2 separate regions of the Homo sapiens genome follow, and region 1 is linked to region 2. Evidence: fine-mapped expression QTL. A gene starts in region 2. The other region holds a variant in brackets. All regions are shown on one strand. Distances are from middle to middle.

The links.
Region 1: its variant is fine-mapped to the expression of CMKLR1 in monocytes (Quach 2016, PIP 0.93).

The regions. Positions count from the first base shown.
Region 1 is chr12:108,308,726-108,317,940 of GRCh38, forward strand. All of the region lies in intron 2 of CMKLR1 (chemerin chemokine-like receptor 1), which reads right to left. Among named protein-coding and RNA genes, the nearest start is that of CMKLR1, 26 kb to the right of the region's middle. RefSeq lists silencers at 7,407-7,701, 7,807-8,101 and an enhancer at 7,817-8,335. The variant A/G (reference allele first, on the strand shown) is at 5,327.
Region 2 is chr12:108,335,089-108,344,303 of GRCh38, forward strand. It overlaps CMKLR1 (chemerin chemokine-like receptor 1), which reads right to left and starts at 4,223. Exons shown (of 4, transcript NM_001142343.2): 1 at 3,939-4,223. RefSeq lists an enhancer at 3,656-4,279 and a silencer at 4,387-4,506.

The sequences.
Region 1 (9,215 bases), 26 kb before region 2:
CGACAAGACAATCTTGATATTGGGCTCAGCTCTGAAGGCCAAAGATTCTTCCTTCCAGTCCTCTAATCCTCCTGTTTCCCTTCCTCCATCCTTCCAAGAAATAGTCATTAAATACCTATTATGAGCCAGGCCTGGATCTGAGTACTGGGGTTGCAGCAGGGAACAAACCAGACACATCCCTGCCCTTGGAGTCGAGGGGTAGTCGGGGGTGACAGATGCTAAACAGTCAAGTAAACAAATACATAATAAGGAAGACAAACACATCTGGAGCCAGACTGCCTCGGTTTGAATCCCAGCTCTGCTGTGTGACCATGGGCAAGTCATCACACTTCTCTGTGCCTCAGTTCCCTCATCTGGAAAATAGGAGTGATCATTGCTCCTCCCTCACAGAGTTGTTGCAAGGATTGAATGTTGGTAATGGGTTTATGTTGGTAATGTTTTAGAAGCATGCCTGGTTCATCGGAAGCTCTATGTAAATGCTGAAAAAATACAATGAATATAATAGCAGGCAGTGATTTGTGCTGTGAATAAAATACAAAGAGGGTCATCTTCTCAGAGAAGCTTCTTGGAACGCTCTCCCTAACATAGAATTCCCCTCCCCCAGCATTTATGCCCTGTTCCACCTTTGAATGGAGACCTGAATACACAGAGAGGGAGACATGGGCTGGTGCTGTGGAAGAGCATGGTAGGCAGTGGGAACAGCAGATGCAAAGGCAGGAGGATCGCTTGAGCCCAGCAGCTTAGGGCTGCAGTGAGCTATGATTGCACCACTACACTCCAACCTGGGTGACAGGGTGAGACCTCCATCTCCAAAAAAAAAAAAAGCCAGTAGTGGGCAACGTCTAAGGGTCACACTCCTTGCCAAATGCTGTGGGAGTAAGATGGCCCAGTCACTACCTTCATGCAGAGAAAGTGGTTGCAGGAACAGATCGTGGCACAGTCAGTATTCTGAGATGTCACCTAAATTCCAGGCTTCCAGCAAACTGGCCATGCTGGGCTTGCATTACAGAACAGGGGTTATCCACAGTCCCCACCCCTCCCTATTGTTCCCTGGGGTAATAAGCCAGTTGCAATTTGCCATTGAGTTTGTCCAGGGTCTCTGCTGTGGCAGAAATAAGTGCAATCCAGTGAGAGAAAGAGGAACCAAGTCATTCTCATTTTCAGCTTTCATAGGAGAGCACGTATGTCTTTGTGGACATGAAAAATGTTCATAAATGGGTCATTTGGGTCTCCTGCCTGGCCCTGTTGGTCACTGAGTGTGTGGCCCTGGCTCTGCACAAAGTAAAGAGAAAGGGCTGGGGAAATCAGGGGATGCTTCCTGGAGGAGGTGGCATTTGAGCTGAGCCTTGGAGGGTATGAAGCCTTTGCCAGGTGGAGCAGCCGAGGGAAATGACATACCTGCAGAGGAACAGAGGCTTGAAAAAGTGTGGTTAGGGGCTGTGTGTGTGTGTGTGTGTGTGTGTGTGTGTGTGTTAGGGGAGGGGAGAAGGCAGGAGATGTGGCTAAGGAAAGAAGAGGGTTTCAGATTGTGAGATCCCTGCAAGCCATCAACTTTATCCTATGGGCAATAGGGAGCCATGGATGGTTTTAAGCAGAGGGTATCATCCTTCTAAAAAGATTCCAGCTTCTAACCTGGGTGGCTGATGTGGGCACTGCGTTGGAAGAGGAAAGGCTGGAGGCAGGAGAATAGCAAGAGGCCTGGTGAACTGAGGATCCTTCTGCCAGTTCCAGGCCTACCCAGAAAGTGCAGTTTTTGGAGGCTCCAGGCATCAGGATGTCCCATCAGAGAGCCAGGAAGCCAAGCAATCTCTTTATTTTTCTTAAGGATTTTTCCTCAGCCCACAGGGACTGGTTTGCTTCCAGAGCCATTTCCATGGCAACCACCAATGCTCCAAGAAAGGTCTTGAGTGAGCGGAGGAGTGAGGACCAGAGATACTCAGATGGGTCTTCACGGGAAAAGCCAGGTCACAGAGAAGGGCCCATACTGTCCAGTCCTGGGGGCTGGGAGCCATCTTCCCCCGGAGTCCATGATGCCACAGATAAGCTATGGTTGCCATGGTAACACCGAGTCCCCCATCCCCGGGCCTCATGGACCCAGGGCCTTTCAGCAAGGCGGGTAGGCAGAGACAGGAGGGAGGCAGTGCTGAGGGGCAGCCAGAACCTGCAGCTCACCAGGGAGGCACATCCCAGGACACGTGTGTGAGGCAGGTAAGTTCGAAGACCGCCCCCCCACCCCCCGCCCAGGAGATGAGCAGGGTGCAGATGAAGGAGCAGTCAGCAGTCTCTGGGGTCTGGTGCTGGGGTTCTGGAAAGGCATCCCCCACTGCAAATTGATGCCAGATACACACTGCTGCTATGCCTTCAATTCCACCATCAGGGTCCTGCTTTCAACTTTTCCCCAGTGAACTGAAGTCAATGTCGTGATGACGATGGAGAAGCAGAGGCCCACACACAAAGGAGGTTTTTGGCCACAGTTATACAGCAAAATGGCGTCAGGACTGGGGCTCAGATGCCAAAACCATTCCTACTATGTCAGATCCAGTTAGTGGTTGACATGAATGTGTGTATGTGTGCGTGTGAGATATTAACACTTAAAAGTGCTAGGGAGACTGGGCACAGTGGCTCATGCCTGTAATCCCAGCACTTTGGGAGGCTGAGGCGGGAGGGTCACTTATAGCCAGGAGTACAACACCAGCTTGGGCATCATAGAGAGACCCTGCCTCTAGGGGAAAAAATTTTAATTTAAAAATTTAGCCAAGTGTGGTGACACACACCTTTTAGTCCCAGCTACTCAGGAGGCTAAGGTGGGAGGCTCGCTTGAGCCCAGGAAGTCGAGGCTGCAGTGAGCTATGATTGCACCACTGCGCTCCAGCCTGGGTGACAGAGCAAGACTTTGCCTCCTAAAAAGAAAAAAAGTGCCAGGGAAAGGACGCTAAGGGGAAAAGGCAGCATAGAGGGGGAGAGCTGGTGGAGGCAAGAGGCAACAGGAGGAAGGGTGGGCCACTGAGCATGGGCATTAGCCTCCCTTCCCCTTGGACAACCCAAGTGAAGTCAGCGACCCCTGACCCAGGACAGGGCTGCAGGACTCATGGGAAGCCCCAGGCTGGGGGCACGGAAGGACTGCTGGGGGGACCTCAGAGGCCAAGTCCTTCCAAACCAACCTGCTCCCTGTGCTTAAGGAGCCCAGTACCCCGAGCATGGTTCAAAGCACCTGGGCCTCTGCTCTTGCAGGTCCCTCTGCCTGGGGTGTGCTTTCCACAAGCATCCCCTTGCTTCTCCCAGCCTCATGTGCACAAATCCAGGCAGAGCAAACAGCAAGGTGACAAGAGGAAAGAGACCCATCCTGTTACGTGCCAGGCACCTAGCTGTGAGCTTGACACCCCCTCATCTCCTTGTGTCCTGACAATCCATCTTCCCCCTGGCCTGAGGACATTACCTCCATTTCACAGATGTTGAAACTGAGGCTGTAAAAGGAACCAGATCAGGATCGCCAGCCAGTGCCCAGTGGAACCAGGACTTGAACTCAGATCTGTGAGAACTCAAAGCATCTATGCCCTTATCACAGCATTTCCAAGCATCGTGGATGGGCTGACAGGCCCCTTTCATCACAAGACTGTGAAACGTGTCCAGGCAGCATTCCTTCCTCTCCCTAGGACTTCCCTTACAGCCTACCAGCACGGCTTCTCCATGGGGAAGAGCCCTCACCCACTGCCTGTCACAGGGTCCTGGGGTGCAGCTATGGGGTGAGAGGAACCAAAACTGAGAGTCTGGGGCTCATGGAATCCACCCCCTGCTTATTAGGCACAGACGGCATACTCAGTGCCTCCACTCACAACAAACCTTCGAGGTAGATATTTTCATTCCCATTTTTCAGATGTGGAAATCAAGCCATAGAGAAGCAAGGGCACTGGCCCAAGATCTCACAGTAGGAAGGGGCAGAGGAGAGATCTGAATCTGCACTGCCTGACTCTGGAGTCCAGGTCTTCAGTGACGGTCACTGTCCTTTATGTTCTGTGGCTTGCCTGCTGCACACGGGGCCCTGTGATCTCATATCAGTTGTCCCCACCTGTGCAACTTCCGCACCTTGCACATTCACAATGCTACCTCACTGACTTGGGGTACTTAGAGACTCCAAATCACCCCCCTCTGCACAGTCTCCACAGGCTGGCCAGACTCCCAGGGCAGGGAGTCTGTAGAGGCCTGTCCAGCCACATGGAGCTTTGAAAAATCCCAGAGCCCTGAGCTGCCCCAGGGTCCTCCTGCCTAGGCTGCCAGCCACGAGCACAGAGGCCTTGGAGTGCTCAGGCAGGCTCTGGCCCCTTGGAATTCCCTGGCTCCAGCCCAAGCAGCTGACAAATGGACTGGCACCACTGCCAGCAATCAGGACGGTGGAGTATGAGATCCCACCCTGTTCCCAGGCACAGGGAAGGAGGGGCAGGCTGCCCTTCCTTTTGACCCTGTCACCAGGCTGTCACCTCTCCCAAGGCAAAGCCCAAGCCTTGACCTAGGAGGGGTCTTGCTGGAAAAATTGCCCCCCACCCTACCCCACCCCACCTTCCATGGAAAACAAAAAGCTGCTCGAAGACCAGAGGAAATTCTAGAATCCTAAAAGTCATTGCTAGAGAGGCTTTAGGATCAAGGGGTCTCACACCCTCATCTTACAGGAAAAGGGAAGTGGCTCAGTGCAGCTGACAGCTTAAGCCTCACTCAGTTACAGCAAATCCACATGTGAATCCCAGCTTGGCCCTTCCCATGCTATGTAATCTTGGATTACTAAATCACAGACTCCTCGTCTGTAAAGGGGGTCAATGTAAAGATTTCATGAGATCATATACGTAGGGTGCATAGGGTGACCAGTTGTCCTGGTTTGCCAGAAACCAAGGGGTGTCCTGGGATGCAGAATGTAAAGTGCTCAAACTGGAATGTCCCAGCCAATCAGGGCCCGCTGGTCACTCTATGAACATGAAGAGACTGGCTCAAACAAACATGCCCTTTGGCTGTTATGTTTAAAGAGAGCTATGTCTGGAGTCAGCTATCAGTGAGTTTGAAACCCCCACCAGTAGAACTTCTAGAAAGACTTGTCAAGTCATTGGAAAGCTCTTCCTTTTTTTCACTACACTGACCTTGAGCAAACTGCCACATTCGTGTCAGTGTTGGTTTAGGCCCCTGGAGTCACACAGGACAAGCCAGCCACCTCCCTCCCCAGGCAGCAGCCACTTCCTCCCTTTAATCTCCGCCAGCACTTCCTCTGCATCATTCTTAACCCTTTGCCAGCCGACCCCCACCAGGCCAACTGAGCTGCTCTCCTGGGTTGGGGAGGGGTGCC[A/G]CAATATGGTTTTGCTTGCAGGTTTGTCGATTTTTTATTTTTGTTCACTTAATTATTGGCGTGATGCAGCTGTGGATGGTGGGAGGTTCAAAAGAGGCTCACTTATACAGGGAACATAAATTAAAGTAAAAGAAGGAAGGGAAACATGTGTAGAGACAGAAAATGGAGTCACGGCTAAGGGTGAAATGCAGGGGACACAGAAGTTCCTAGACACTGACAGTGGCTGGACCATACACTGGAACCCCAGCTTCCTGAAAGGGGGACCCAGTTACATGAGTCACATGCTCCTTGCTAAAAACCAAACCCACTCAGGGGAATAGTAAGGCTTCCTGATGCTAGGAGCAGAAGGACTGTCTCCAGAAGCCTGTGGAGAGAAGACATGGGGGATCTGATCACGGAACGGGGTCTCCAGTTCCTGAATGTTTTAAGGGAGGCTCCAAACACTCACTGATGGACAGCACTGCCCCAAACTGCAATTCAGTAAAAGCTGCTTTTCCTAGATATGACTGTGAGTTTCAGTCTACACATCCAGGTGTATGCACTGCTGGTGTAATCCAAAGAATTTTCTAGAATATCTGAGAAGGGGCCTGAACCGTGGCCTTTAAGTCATTCTCCCTGATGTTTTTTCAGAACTGAAGCTTTGGTAGCAGTAGCAGTGATAAGTGGGACACTACTCTTTCTTTTTTCCCCCTCCCTTTTTAAAATTTTATTATTTTAATTTTTGGAGATGAGGTCTTGCTATATTGCCCAAGCTGGTCTTGAATTTCTGGCCTCAAGCTATCCTCCCACTTTGCTTCCCAAAGTGCTGGGCTTACCATCATGTTCCATCATGCCCAGCCCGAGGGACATCATTCTCTATGGCCCAGGCTCGAACACAGCCTTGTTTTTTTTTTTTTTTTTTTTGAGACGGAGTTTTGCTCTTGTTGCCCAGGCTGGAGTGCAATGGCGCAATCTCAGCTCACCGCAATATCCACCTCCCAGGTTCAATCGATTCTCCTGCTTCAGCCTCCCAAGTAGCTGAGATTACAGGCATGCGCCACCACACCTGGCTGATTTTGTATTTTTAGCAGTGATGGGGTTTCTCCATGTTGGTCAGGCTGGTCTCAGGTGATCCACCTGCCTCGGCCTCCCAAAGTGCTGGGATTACAGGTGTGAGCCACTGCACCCAGCCCAAACACAGTCTTTCTCCACACCAGCTGGGGGTGGGCCTGGGGCATCCTTATACTCACCTATCTGTGAACATATTTTATGAAACAGACAATCATGACAAAGACATACTTGATACACAGGTAGAGTGACCCTCCATCCTGGCTTGCCCACAACAATCCCTGTTTATGCTTCTTGTCATGTTCCTTTCATTCTCAAAGTGCCCCAGTCAGGACAATAAATCCTACAGTTTCCCTACTCATAGATTACTCCCTCCTCTGGCCTAGAAGCTCCTGTGTACTAGCCTTGCCCACCTACTTGTGCCAGGCCCTAAGCTAAGCACACGTCCTGTGTCATTAAATTCCCATAAGGGTCCTGTGAGGCAGGTACCACCATGATCCCCATTTGACAGATGAGAAAATGGAGGCTCAGAAAGGCTGTGGCTGCTGTTTCAGGAGGTAGCCATGTGCCAGGAACTTTCCAGGATTTAAACACCAGCTGGTTCTGCACAGATGGCTACTTTCACTACCTCTATTTTCCAGATGCAAAGACTGAGCCTTAGTTCACTGATAAAAGGGTGGCTTACCAAAGCCCCTATGGTTTCAGCCAGGAAAGGACCACAGAATGTCCAAATTTCAGAGTCAGCTTCCTTCAATCCGGGCTCATGAGCTGTGGGTCCCTGGGCAAGTGACATGGCCTCTCTGAGCCTTGATTTATCTCATTGGTAAAATGAAGATGAATCTTGCTGCTTACTGTTGGGTGAGTGAGGAGCAGACGCAGGACCAGCACTTGGACCCTGCGCCTCAGCCCAGCTCTTACAGCTCTAAGAGGAGGGGATGTGTTCCCCCCAGGAAGTTCATAATCCTCAGCAGAAACAGTGCATACTTCATGGAGTCACTGCAAAATGAAAATGCAGCCCCTTATTCAAAAATTACTGAGAATTCAGGACAGCAACTGCCAAGTGTTAAACAAAGCACAGGCCTTCTGAGCCCTGTGTGGCTGCACTGGTCGCCAGCCTGAGATGCTGGCCCTGCCCCTCAGCTCTAGGGAATTTGAGGGAAGAGCCCTCTTCACTTCAGGCCCCAGCAGGGCAGGGGCTCGGCGGGATAGGTGATCTTAGGAGGGAGGAAGAAGCAGCACAGCCAAGAAAGAGCAGAGAGAACAGAGGATGACACCTCCTCAACGTAGACAGAAAGAGAGGGGGAAGAGGGGCAGGGAGAGGAAAGCCAGCAGGAAGAGGAGAGACGCACAGGGACTGGAAAAAGGAGGACAGAGCGGTCAGGGCAAAGCAGCAAAGTGGCAGAAGAAAGACGAAGGCAGGGTGAAGAAAGTCCCCAGGAAGAGAGACCCAGAGGCAAGAAGAAAGGGACAAGGCTAAAAGGAGTCTTCTGCCAACCTCTGAGAAGGTTTAACAAGACCCCATGGAGCCACCCGGTGTGGGCAGGGAGGGGCCCCATGAATAGCTGTCCTCCTGGGGTGAGGGCCATTTGCTATTGCATTTGCATACATTTAAAAGCACAGGAAAGGCAGTGCTGGGGATTTCCAAAATCCCCAAAGATCAGGGAGCTACGGGCAAGGTGTCAACCCCATAGCAGAAATGGGTGGGGCTTTTGCTTTGGGATGGAAAGCCACAGGCACCGGTTGGAACCGCCAGTGGGAGCTCAATCACAGCTCACTGCAGCCTCAACCTCCCTGGGCTCAAGTGATCCTCCCACTTCAGCCTCCTGAGTAGCTAGGACTACTACAGGCATACACCACCACACCCCACTAATTTTTTTTGTATTTTGTAGAGATGGGGTTTCGCCATGTTGGCCAAGCTGGTCTCCAACTCCTGGACTCAAGTGATCCACCCACCTCAGCCTTCCAAAGGGCTGGGAATACAGGCATGAGCCACTGTACCCAGCCTCAATGTCATTGGTTGATTTTAACAGGAAAAGGTGTGATTTAACACACAGCCTGTTTGGTGGTGGGCTGGAGGCAGTGTTTGGGAAGGTCCTGGCAGACACAAGATGAGCTGAAAGCCATCCCAAGCAGTTCTCTTCATTGAGCATGGGTTTCAGTCATTATGTGCTCTAGAGGTTCTCTTCATCCATGGTTATTAGTGTCAAGGAGAGCCCACAAGAACGCATTGTTTTCCCTACAAACATTTCACCAAGAGCTTGGAATGAAATGGCAGGTCCACTATGAGACATAGGTATTGACTACCCATGGCCTCAGGAGGCCACCAGGAGTGCATCACGGTCATGAGGATGATGTGGACACTGGAGGGAGGGGTGGGCTCTGTGTAAACCCCACAGGACTCTCTCAGCTGGTTCAAAGTGGGCCAAAGGTGGCCTCATTCTGACATCAAGGAAAGCCGTAGTCAGCTGGGCAATAAATCCAGCTAGTTTGAAAACTCCAAATGTGCTTATGTCACAATCAAGGAGAAAATAGGAATGAAAACCACGGGCCTTAGAATTTACAACACACATACTATTCACATAATAACACTGTTAGCCTAACAGCCATCCATCCACAATTCTAATAGGCTTTTTGAATTTAAATTGCTGACCAGGCATCACAACTCCTTCTAACTGGTGATGTTCAAACCATCTAAAACTATAGAAAGATTAGAATGAAAAATCTTGCTCCTACCTGCCACCATCCATCCAGTTTCCACTGTACCCACCTCCCTATGTTAGTTCCTCATGTCTCCTTCCAGAGTTTCTTTGGAGAAATACATTCTCTTTTCATTTCATTTCTC
Region 2 (9,215 bases):
TAATGGAAATGTAGACTTAGAATCAAAGAATGGAAGCAACCCAAGAGGTCACCACATTTGTGACAGAGACAGGTAGCTGTCCACAAAAATTCATTCTCCCTGTCCACAATACACGACTGTGGCTGGGAAAGAGCTGCTCTTTGCCAAGAACCTCATATCCTTGTAACTCCATGTCCTGGCCTCCTTTGCAACTAGATTGGCCACATGATAGTTCTCATGTGAGTGGAAGTCATGTCTGCTGCTTCCAGGCCAAAGCAGATAAGCAAATATGCCACCTCCATACTTTCTTTTGTCTTGTGCACCTGGCTGCAGACAATGAGGATATCTGAGGAGAGAGTGGGACCACCAGATGAGTCACTGAAGTACCATGAGGAAGAGGACCACCCTCCATTCAGAAATACTTGCCTTATAATAAAGCTCTGCTTTGCTTCAGCCCTTATGCCTTTGGGGACCTATTTGTTACTGCAGCTACTACCCTAGCTGATATACCATTCGACCTCCTTATTTACAGATGAAATTATTGTGGCCAAAGAGTAAGAGTGCCTTGCCAAGGTCACACAGTAAGCTCAACAAATGTCTAGAACTTTGGTCTCTTAACTCCTTGGAGTAGAGGAGTTGCAGTTTCCTGCCTGCCCCATGGAGCTACAAAGATTCTTAGAGGCCCTTCAGCAACAAGAGTGAGATTTAGTGGCAGCCTGGAGTCTTCCACCTCTGTTTCAACAAGAATAACACCACCTTTATCTGTTTTCAAATTACACTTCCCCATAAGACTTTCATTTGTGGAAAGGATTCTGCAACTGAAAATAATTTCAAAGCCTCCATGCTGGGGGATTGCTAACACGATCTGACTTTCTGTGGTACTATAAGACAAAGTTTCGCTTCTTCTCTGCCAAACCTTCTGGCCTCAACTGCTGACACGGAACATGTGGATTCACAGAAGTACATGAATATTTGCTTAGAAGGGAAAAAAGAAACCTTATTGTGCAGCAAAGAACCCAAGACCCCAGTGTGAACAAAGGGCAAAAAGGAAAGACTTTTAAGCACTCTAGGTTGGTAGTTCTCAAGTTTTGGGGTGCATCTGAATGACCTGGGGTGCTGGTTCAACATGCAGACACTGAAGCCTCATCCACAGAGATTCTGATTTCCAAACTGAAGCTTTAAGAAACACTCACAATTGGCCGGGCGCAGTGGCTCACGCCTGTAATCCCAGCACTTTTGGAGGCCGAGGTGGGTGGATCACAAGGTCAGGAGATTGAGACCATCCTGGCTAATACGGTGAAACCCCGTCTCTACTAAAAATACAAAAAATTAGCCGGGCGGGGTGGTGGGTGCCTGTAGTCGCAGCTACTTGGGAGGCTGAGGCAGGAGAATGGCGTGAACCCGGGAGGCAGAGCTTGCAGTGAGCCAAGATTGCGCCACTGTACTCCAGCCTGGGCGACAGAGCGAGACTCCATCTCCAGGAAAAAAAAAAAAAAGAAACACTCACAATTATTCTAATGCAGGTGGTCTAGAGATTGCACTTTGAGAAGCTCTGAGTCTACTTCATAGCCTCGCAACTGGCGGTAATGTCTGCACCCATGTGGTGTAGCTCAAAGAGAATGAAATAAGCTTTTGGTTTTCTTGTACATCAGTGGGAATAAGAGCATTAATAATCCACTAAAGAAATCAATAATAATTTCCATTTGGCTCAGATGAGTGTCACAGGTATAGACAGGCACAGTGGAATAGAAATGATCATCAGAACAATAGCTAATGTTTATAGAGACCTTATTTTACAACAAATCCTCTGCTTACAGCTTTACTTGTATGATCTCATTTACTCTTTAGAATAATCTTATGAGGCAGTTACTGATCATATTCCCATTTTATAGATGAGGAAACTCAGGCACAAAGATGAGGAATAACTGATTCCATGTCACTCAGTTGGCAGGTGGCAGGCCAATTCAAGCCCACCCCCAGAGTGATAATAATATCAAATAATATCATCCTTATTTACAGATGATATTATTGTGGCCAGAGAGTGGGAGTACCTTGCCTAAGACCAAGGTGCCCCTTCTTGCACAATGTTCTACTCCCTTTTGTGGGGAGGTCTAGCATCAGAACTCTCCAGGCTTCTGTTTCCTAATCTGTAAAATGGGCATGTTAATAGTACCTTCATCATGTGGCCATGGTGAGGATTTGATAAAATCATCTCGAGAAAGTGGTTTGCAAACTGAGAGGAGTTATTAGGTAAACATCTAAGAGATGGGACTTCAGTCCAACTTCCCCCACCCCATTTTACAGATGGTGAAACTGACACCTGGTTACTTTATTTATTCCATGAACAATGACCCTAATATATGCTAGTTCTTGTGCAGGGGACTGAGGATGCAGAAAAAAAGTAATATCCCAGATCTGGCCTCTAGGGGCCTCCCGGCTAGAAGGAGAGACAGACAAGATGACTGGTCATTAGAACACGGTGTGGTAGGAGCCGTGATAAGGGAGGGATAGGCCCTGGGAGAGCCTAGCAGACAAGCCCTGACCCAGTGCGGGTAGGGGACTTCTCAGAACAAGTCAAGCCAGAGAAAGGCATGACTTGCCCAAAGTTAAGGTTATCTGTTCCCTGAAGTTTTGGGGGAGTCCAAAGAAGGCCCCTGTGCATCAAGAGATAACTCTCCTGTGGACCTCCCAAGTGTATGACACATCATCATTTGAGTGCCACTGGTTTAGGTTAAAGAAAAGGCCAAGCTGCCTCCTCCTGCACCAGAGGCCTGAATGACCCAGTCACACTCACCTCAGCAGCCAAGGCATTTAGAGGAATCTTACCTTCAAACCAGTTTGGAAGGGGCAGGAGATACAGCAAGAACCACAGAGAAGATTGGTCTTGAGAAGGAGGTAGGGGATGCAAAAGGGAAGTTGAGGGCTTTCCCTAATAGAAAAAGAAAGACTCAGAACCTGGACGTTCAGGCGTGTGACCTCAGACCAGTGATCTGGCATCTCTGAACCGCACAGGTCTGAGTGATTGGGCTTATATCAAGTAGTAGTTCCCTGATGTTGTAATGCTTATAATTTTGCCAAAGCTGGCTTGCCCATTTAAAATGGGCTATTCTGAAGACAGAGGAGGGAGTGGAATATTTTCAACAGAGAGTGCCGGCAAAGGTTTTGTGTCCTTTATATACAAAGAACCCTTAGATATCAATTGGAAAAAGATAAACATGCCCCCAGAGGAGAAAAAAATGGGAACAGACTTGAACAGGAGAGTCAGACTAGAAATGTGAAAAATAAGTTTATAAAAGAGAATCAACACTAACAAAGAAATGAAATGCCTATTGAAGCATCTAGATATTATTCTCGACTTCACATCAGGGAAAGTTTAAGGGATGGGTAGCAACAAGGTGGGTTTAGTATGTGAGAATACTGTGCCCTGGTATAACATCGTAGAGAGGTCAAGCTGCCACGGCCTTCCAGGGTGCAGTGTGACCAAAAGCTCAGAAGTCTTAAAAATAGGCAAACCTTAAATCTAGCAATTTCTAAAAGGTATTCATAAGACACACACACAAAGATGTCATACTAAATATTCATTGCAGCACTGTTCTAATAAAAAAAAAGAAGCAAATCTATTATGGAAAAGTCAAATAATCTTAAGATAGCCTTTCTATGCAGCCATGAAAAATGTATATTGGAAGAATATAGGTGATATGGAAAAAAGTTCACAATCTGTGGTTAAGCAGGTTACCAAACTAGATGTGGAAATCCACATTCATATATTTAGTTGTGTATCCTTGCTATTTCTTTAAACAATGAACATGCATTACTTTTGACATCTGAAAATAATAACAAAACTCTTCCTTTTAACAAATATGAAATTATAAAAAGAAACAAACTTTTCTCTCTGTTAGTATTCATTCCCCTTCCCTGGCCCCCCTCAGAAGACACCCAAGGCAAGTGTGTGATGATACCTTCCCTCTGGTCTCTGCCCGGAAGGTCTTCCTGAGGGTTCCCTGTGACTGCAGGCCACTCGAGGCTGTTGGGGAGACTTGCACACCCTGGCTTCTTTCTGCCAATCACAGGCTCCTCTGGCTGTGGCTGTTTGCCCAGAAAGCAGTTCATTCATTTGTTCATTCAAGATCCCCCTCTGAACCCCCAGAGCGCCGCAGCTGGAACACCCCTATCACCCGGAGGCTTCCCAGGGAGCCTGCTCTGTCCTGAGCTCCCTGCTGGCCGCCGGGGCTGCTTCCCTGAATGGGACTGGGACAGAACTCAGCCAGAGAAACAGCTGGAGGGAGGAGAGCAGGAGGGAGGGGCAGGAAACTGGGCTGACCTAGGGCGGGGGCGGCTAGCTGCGTGGAGAGGGGGCTGCGAGGGGAGGGTGCCCCTACCAGCCGGGGACTGGGCTTGTGGGTGGCGGCGGGGGCCCGCTGGGGACGACCCGCCCCTCTGGCAGCCTCTTGCAGCCGGGGAGCCGTGCCCACTGAGCGCAAACAGGGAGCACATCTGAGCACCCGGCTGCTGGGGGAAGTGCAAGCGCCTCTGCTCCCGGTGAGGGGCTCAAGCTCCACACTGACCGAGAGATTGGCTGCCTCTCACCCTGGGCCTTTGCAACGCTGTTCCTCCCACCTGGATGCTATTCCTGCCCTAATTCGTGGCCCGATGGTCTCCTACTGCCTCTTCAGGTCTCAGGTTGAAGGTCACCTCCCAGGGAAGCCTTCCCCAACCCTCGGGGGCTGCTGTGCCCCTCAGGGTCACCCCATCACCTCACTGATGCAGTGCTGTCCTTGCCTGTTAAGATGTCTCTCTCCTTGCACCGAGAACTCCTTGCACCAGGAACTCTGTAGGGAAAGAACTGTATTCTGTTCCCTGCCCTAACCAGGCGCTAAGTGCCTGGTTCATCGGCTGTGTGGTCACCATCATTAGTGGAATAATCAAAACAACCGACAGCCAGGCAGCGTGCTAGGCGATGCGTACTTACTCTTCACGGCAACCCTAGATAACAGGAATTATTACTACTCCAGTCTTACCAATAAGGAAACTGGGGTACAGAGAGATTAAGTCACTTGCTCAAGACCACACCGCCAGCAGCTGACAGAGCTGGGATTCCAACTATGTTGTCTGGCTCGGAGGCCCACCCTTGGCCTCCAGACTGAAGAAATAACAGAAGTGCCCATGTGGGCCCCTGTGCCAAGTGCTTCCATGGAGTAAGCCGTGTGAACCACCACCCACGTCGGGGGGGCATCACTTGCCCATTCTACACATGAGGATGCTAGGGCCACAGAGCAGAAGTCGTTTTGCCCAGGGCGCCAAGCTCATGCTGACCGAGCCATGGCTGGATCTGAGTCTGTCTGATTCCAAAGCCAAGACTGCCTACGACTGCCTAAAATAATATTTTTAGAAAGAAAAAGAAAAGGGAAGGGCAGGGGAGGGGAAGAGAGGGGAAGGGAGGAGAAGAAAGAAAGGAAGAAAAGGGAGGGCAGGGAGGAAGGTAATGGGGAGGAGGGGAAGGTGAAGGGAGAGGGAGATGGGGAGGGAGGGAGAGAAGGAGAGAAACCTGTGTTTTGGGCCTCAAAGTCTTGGGCAGGTGGAGGACTATGTCCTCATCGTCTGATCAGCCTTAGAACCCCACCGACCTCTCCCCACCATCCTCAATCCTTTAATTCAGTGAGCTTTACACTTAGAAACCATCTAATTTCATTCTTCCATTTCACAGATAACTTGAAGCCCAGAGAGATTGAGTCTCTTGCCTGAGGTCACACAGGTCTCTATAGTCAGAAGTCAGGCCCAGTCTACCCAACTGTCTTCCTTGCTCTCTTCTTCTTTGGGCTTATCTAGGGAACAAAACATCATATCGAAACACTTACTGTACAGATGAGAACACTGAACCCAGAGGAGGCAAGGGACTCACCCAAGGTCACCCAGAAGTTAGTAATTGTATTGGTCCGTTCTCACACTGCTGTGAAGAAATACCCAAGACTGGGTAATTTATAAAGAAAAAAGGTTTAATTGACTCACATTTTCGCATAGCAGGGGAGGCCTCAGGAAACTTACAATCATGATGGAAGGTACCTCTTCACAGGGTGGCAGGAGAGACAATGAGTGCCAGGCAAAGGGGGAAGCCTCTTATAAAACCATCAGATTTCATGAGAACTCACTCACTATCATGAGAACAGGATGGGGGGAAAACCACCCCCATGTTCAATTACCTCCCACCTGGTCCCTCCCATGACTCGTGAGGATTATGGAATTCCAATTCAAGATGAGATTTGGGTCGGGACACAAAGCCAAATCATGTCATTCCCCAGGTTCTCCTGGTGAAAGGAGAGGATATTTCCATAACGTGGCAGGGATCTTGTATATCACCATCTAATAGAGACCAGAGGTTCCTAAAGTCTAGTTTCCATACCAACCCCAGCAGCCTCACCCAGAAGTTTGTTAGAAACACAAACCCTTGGGCCTCACTGCAGACCTTGGCAATCAGAGACTCCAGGAAGCCATCTGGGTTTTAAGAAGCCCTCCAGGGGATTCTGATGCTTGCTCAAGTTTGAGATCCACTGACATAGGCATTTCAATTAGGAATCCATTGAAATGGGCCCTGGAACAAGTCACCTTGCCAATGCACAGAATAGTGGCTAAGAACAGAGGCTTTGATAGCAGACGGACCTGGTTTGAATTCCTGTCGCTGTCACTGTAAGCTGTGTGACTTGGGCAAGGCCTTTCACCTTTGGAGTCTCAGTTTCCTCATCTGCTGTGGACAGTGGAAGAGGAAGAGGAGGAAGAGGGAAAGGGAGGAGGGAGAGGAAAAGAGGAGGAGGGAAAAAGGAGAGGAGGAGGAGGGAAAGAGGAGAGGAGGAGGAGGAAAAAGGAGGGGCCAAGTAGAGGAGAGGGGAGGGGGAGGAGGAGGAGGGAAAGGGAGGAGGGATATGAAAAGAGGAGGAGGGAAGAGGAGCGGAGGAGGAGGGAAGAGAAAGAAAGGGGAGGAGGAGAGGGTGGGGGAGGAGGAGACGAGGAGGAGGGAGTAAGGAGGAGGAGGGAAAGGGAGGAAGGAGATGAAAAGAGGAGGAGGAAGGAGGAAGAGAGGAGGAGGAGGGAAGAGGAGGGGTCAAGGGGAGGAGAGGGGAGAGGGAGGAGGAGAAGAGGGGGAGGGGGTAAGGAGGAGGAGGGAAAGGGAGGAGGGAGATGAAAAGAGGAAAAAGAGGGAAGAGGAGAGGAGGAGGGAAGAGGAAGAAAGGGGAGGAGGGGGTCAGAAGGAGGAAGGGGGAAAGAGAAGAAGGGGAGGAAAGGGAGATAAAGGAGAGGGGAGGAGAAGAAGGAGTGGGGGAGAGGAGGGAGAGTGGGAGAGAAGAGAAGGAGGCCAGAAGGCAGCCTTCGAGGAAGATCAAGCACACGGGTACTATGGAAGAGGAGCTGGGTAAATCCAGCCCGGGGATGGACTCCTGGACATGCCTCTTCCTCCCTGGAGGTGGCTGTGGCTGTGGCATGCCTCCCTCTGCCTCTGGCCTCCCAGCCAAACCTAAGCTCGGGTCTCATCAGCTAGGAGCCACAACTGGCAGAGCAAGGACACTGGTCCCCCAGCCAGCTGGGTCCCTGGGTGGCTGGCAGAGGAGGTGGGAACCCACAGCCCCACTGGGCCAGTGAGGAAGGCGTGGGGCTGCCTGGCTTATGACTCTCCACCTGGTGGCTGTGGGACAATCTGAAGCCACGGGCCTTTGGCCATCCCTTTTGAACAGGGCTGAACAGTTTGGCTTTTCTTTCTTGGAGCAAAAAGTGTTTGTTGTTGCTTGTGGGGGTTTTTATGCTTTTGTTTTAAAGAGGATTTTGAAATCTAAGGGCTGACCTGGGGATACTGGGACTTGAGAGAGAAGCAGTCTCCTCCAGGACCCTCAGAGGAACCTCTGTGTACACCCCTGGCAGCTCCACATAGAATCAGGATGGAGGGTCAAGCTTCCTTTTGAGGTCCAGCTCGGGTTGACTGGTTCTTGATTCCTGGAGCTCTGTGTTAAAGGGAATCTGAGGCCACATCCTGGCCTGGCTGCAAGGAACTCAGTGATCCGTGAGCAATGCCTGCCCTGGACCTGGAGTGGGAGGAGGGTTGCCTTTCTCATCCCATGCTGTCCTCCAACTAAACTCTGTCCCATTGGCGCAGGGTGGACTGGTTCAGCAGGGACTGGTTCCACCCCTACCACTCCCTCTCCTGGTACTGGCTGTGCCTAGTGTAATGGAGCTTATATCTCATTCCCAAGCCACTGGGTAGCTCCTTCCGGCAGATCTTTAGTGTTCACAGATTCCTAACACTCTACTTAAAGCTGAACGGTTTCCCCAGCCTCCCTGATCATCAGTGGCTAAACTAGGCTCAGCAGAGAGGCTCCCAACCAAAGGAGGTCTTCAAAGATGCATCCTGCCACATGAAGGATCCTCTCTAAGTCCAAACTCTGCCTACTTTGGACTTTCTTTAAGGCATAGACAGGCCACATGGGAATGAGAGCTCCTCTATTTCAGCCAAAGATGGGCTGTGTGACCTTGGGGGACTCATATACCTTCTCTGGTTCATTCAGTGCTCAATAGATGCTTACTGGACCCCATCTCTGTGGCAGGCACAGGCTGGTGAACAAGACAGCCATGCCCTATGCTCAGGAAGCTGGCCTGCTGGAGAATTCATTTTATTTATTTATTTACTTTTTTAAAAAATTCTTTTGAGACTGAGTCTCCCTCAATCTGTTGCCCAGGCTGGAGTGCAGTAGCAAGATCTGGGCTCACTGCAAGCTCAGCCTCCTGGGTTCAAGTGATTCTCTCACCTCAGCCTCCCAAGTAGCTGGGATTATAGGCACGCACCATCACACCTGGTAAGTTTTGTATTTTTAGTAGAGATGGGGTTTCGCCATGTTGGCCAGGCTGGTCTCGAACTCCTGACCTCAAGTGATCCTTCCACCTTGGCCTCCCAAAGTACTGGGACACAGGCGTGAGCCACCGCGCCCAGTGAAACTCCCCATTTTAAATGAGATATGATGCTTTCTAAGAACCCCTTAATTACCAGGAAAGATTCTCAGGCAGGCTAGGCATGGTGCCTCACGCCTATAATCCCAGCATTTTGGGAGGCCAAGGCAGGACAATTGCTTGAGGCCAGGAGTTCAAGACCAGCCTGGCCAACATCGTGAAACCCTATCTCTGCTAAAAAAGATAATAGCGAAGCATGGCAGCACATGCCTGTAATCCCAGCTTTTTGGGAGGCTGAGGCAGGAGAATTG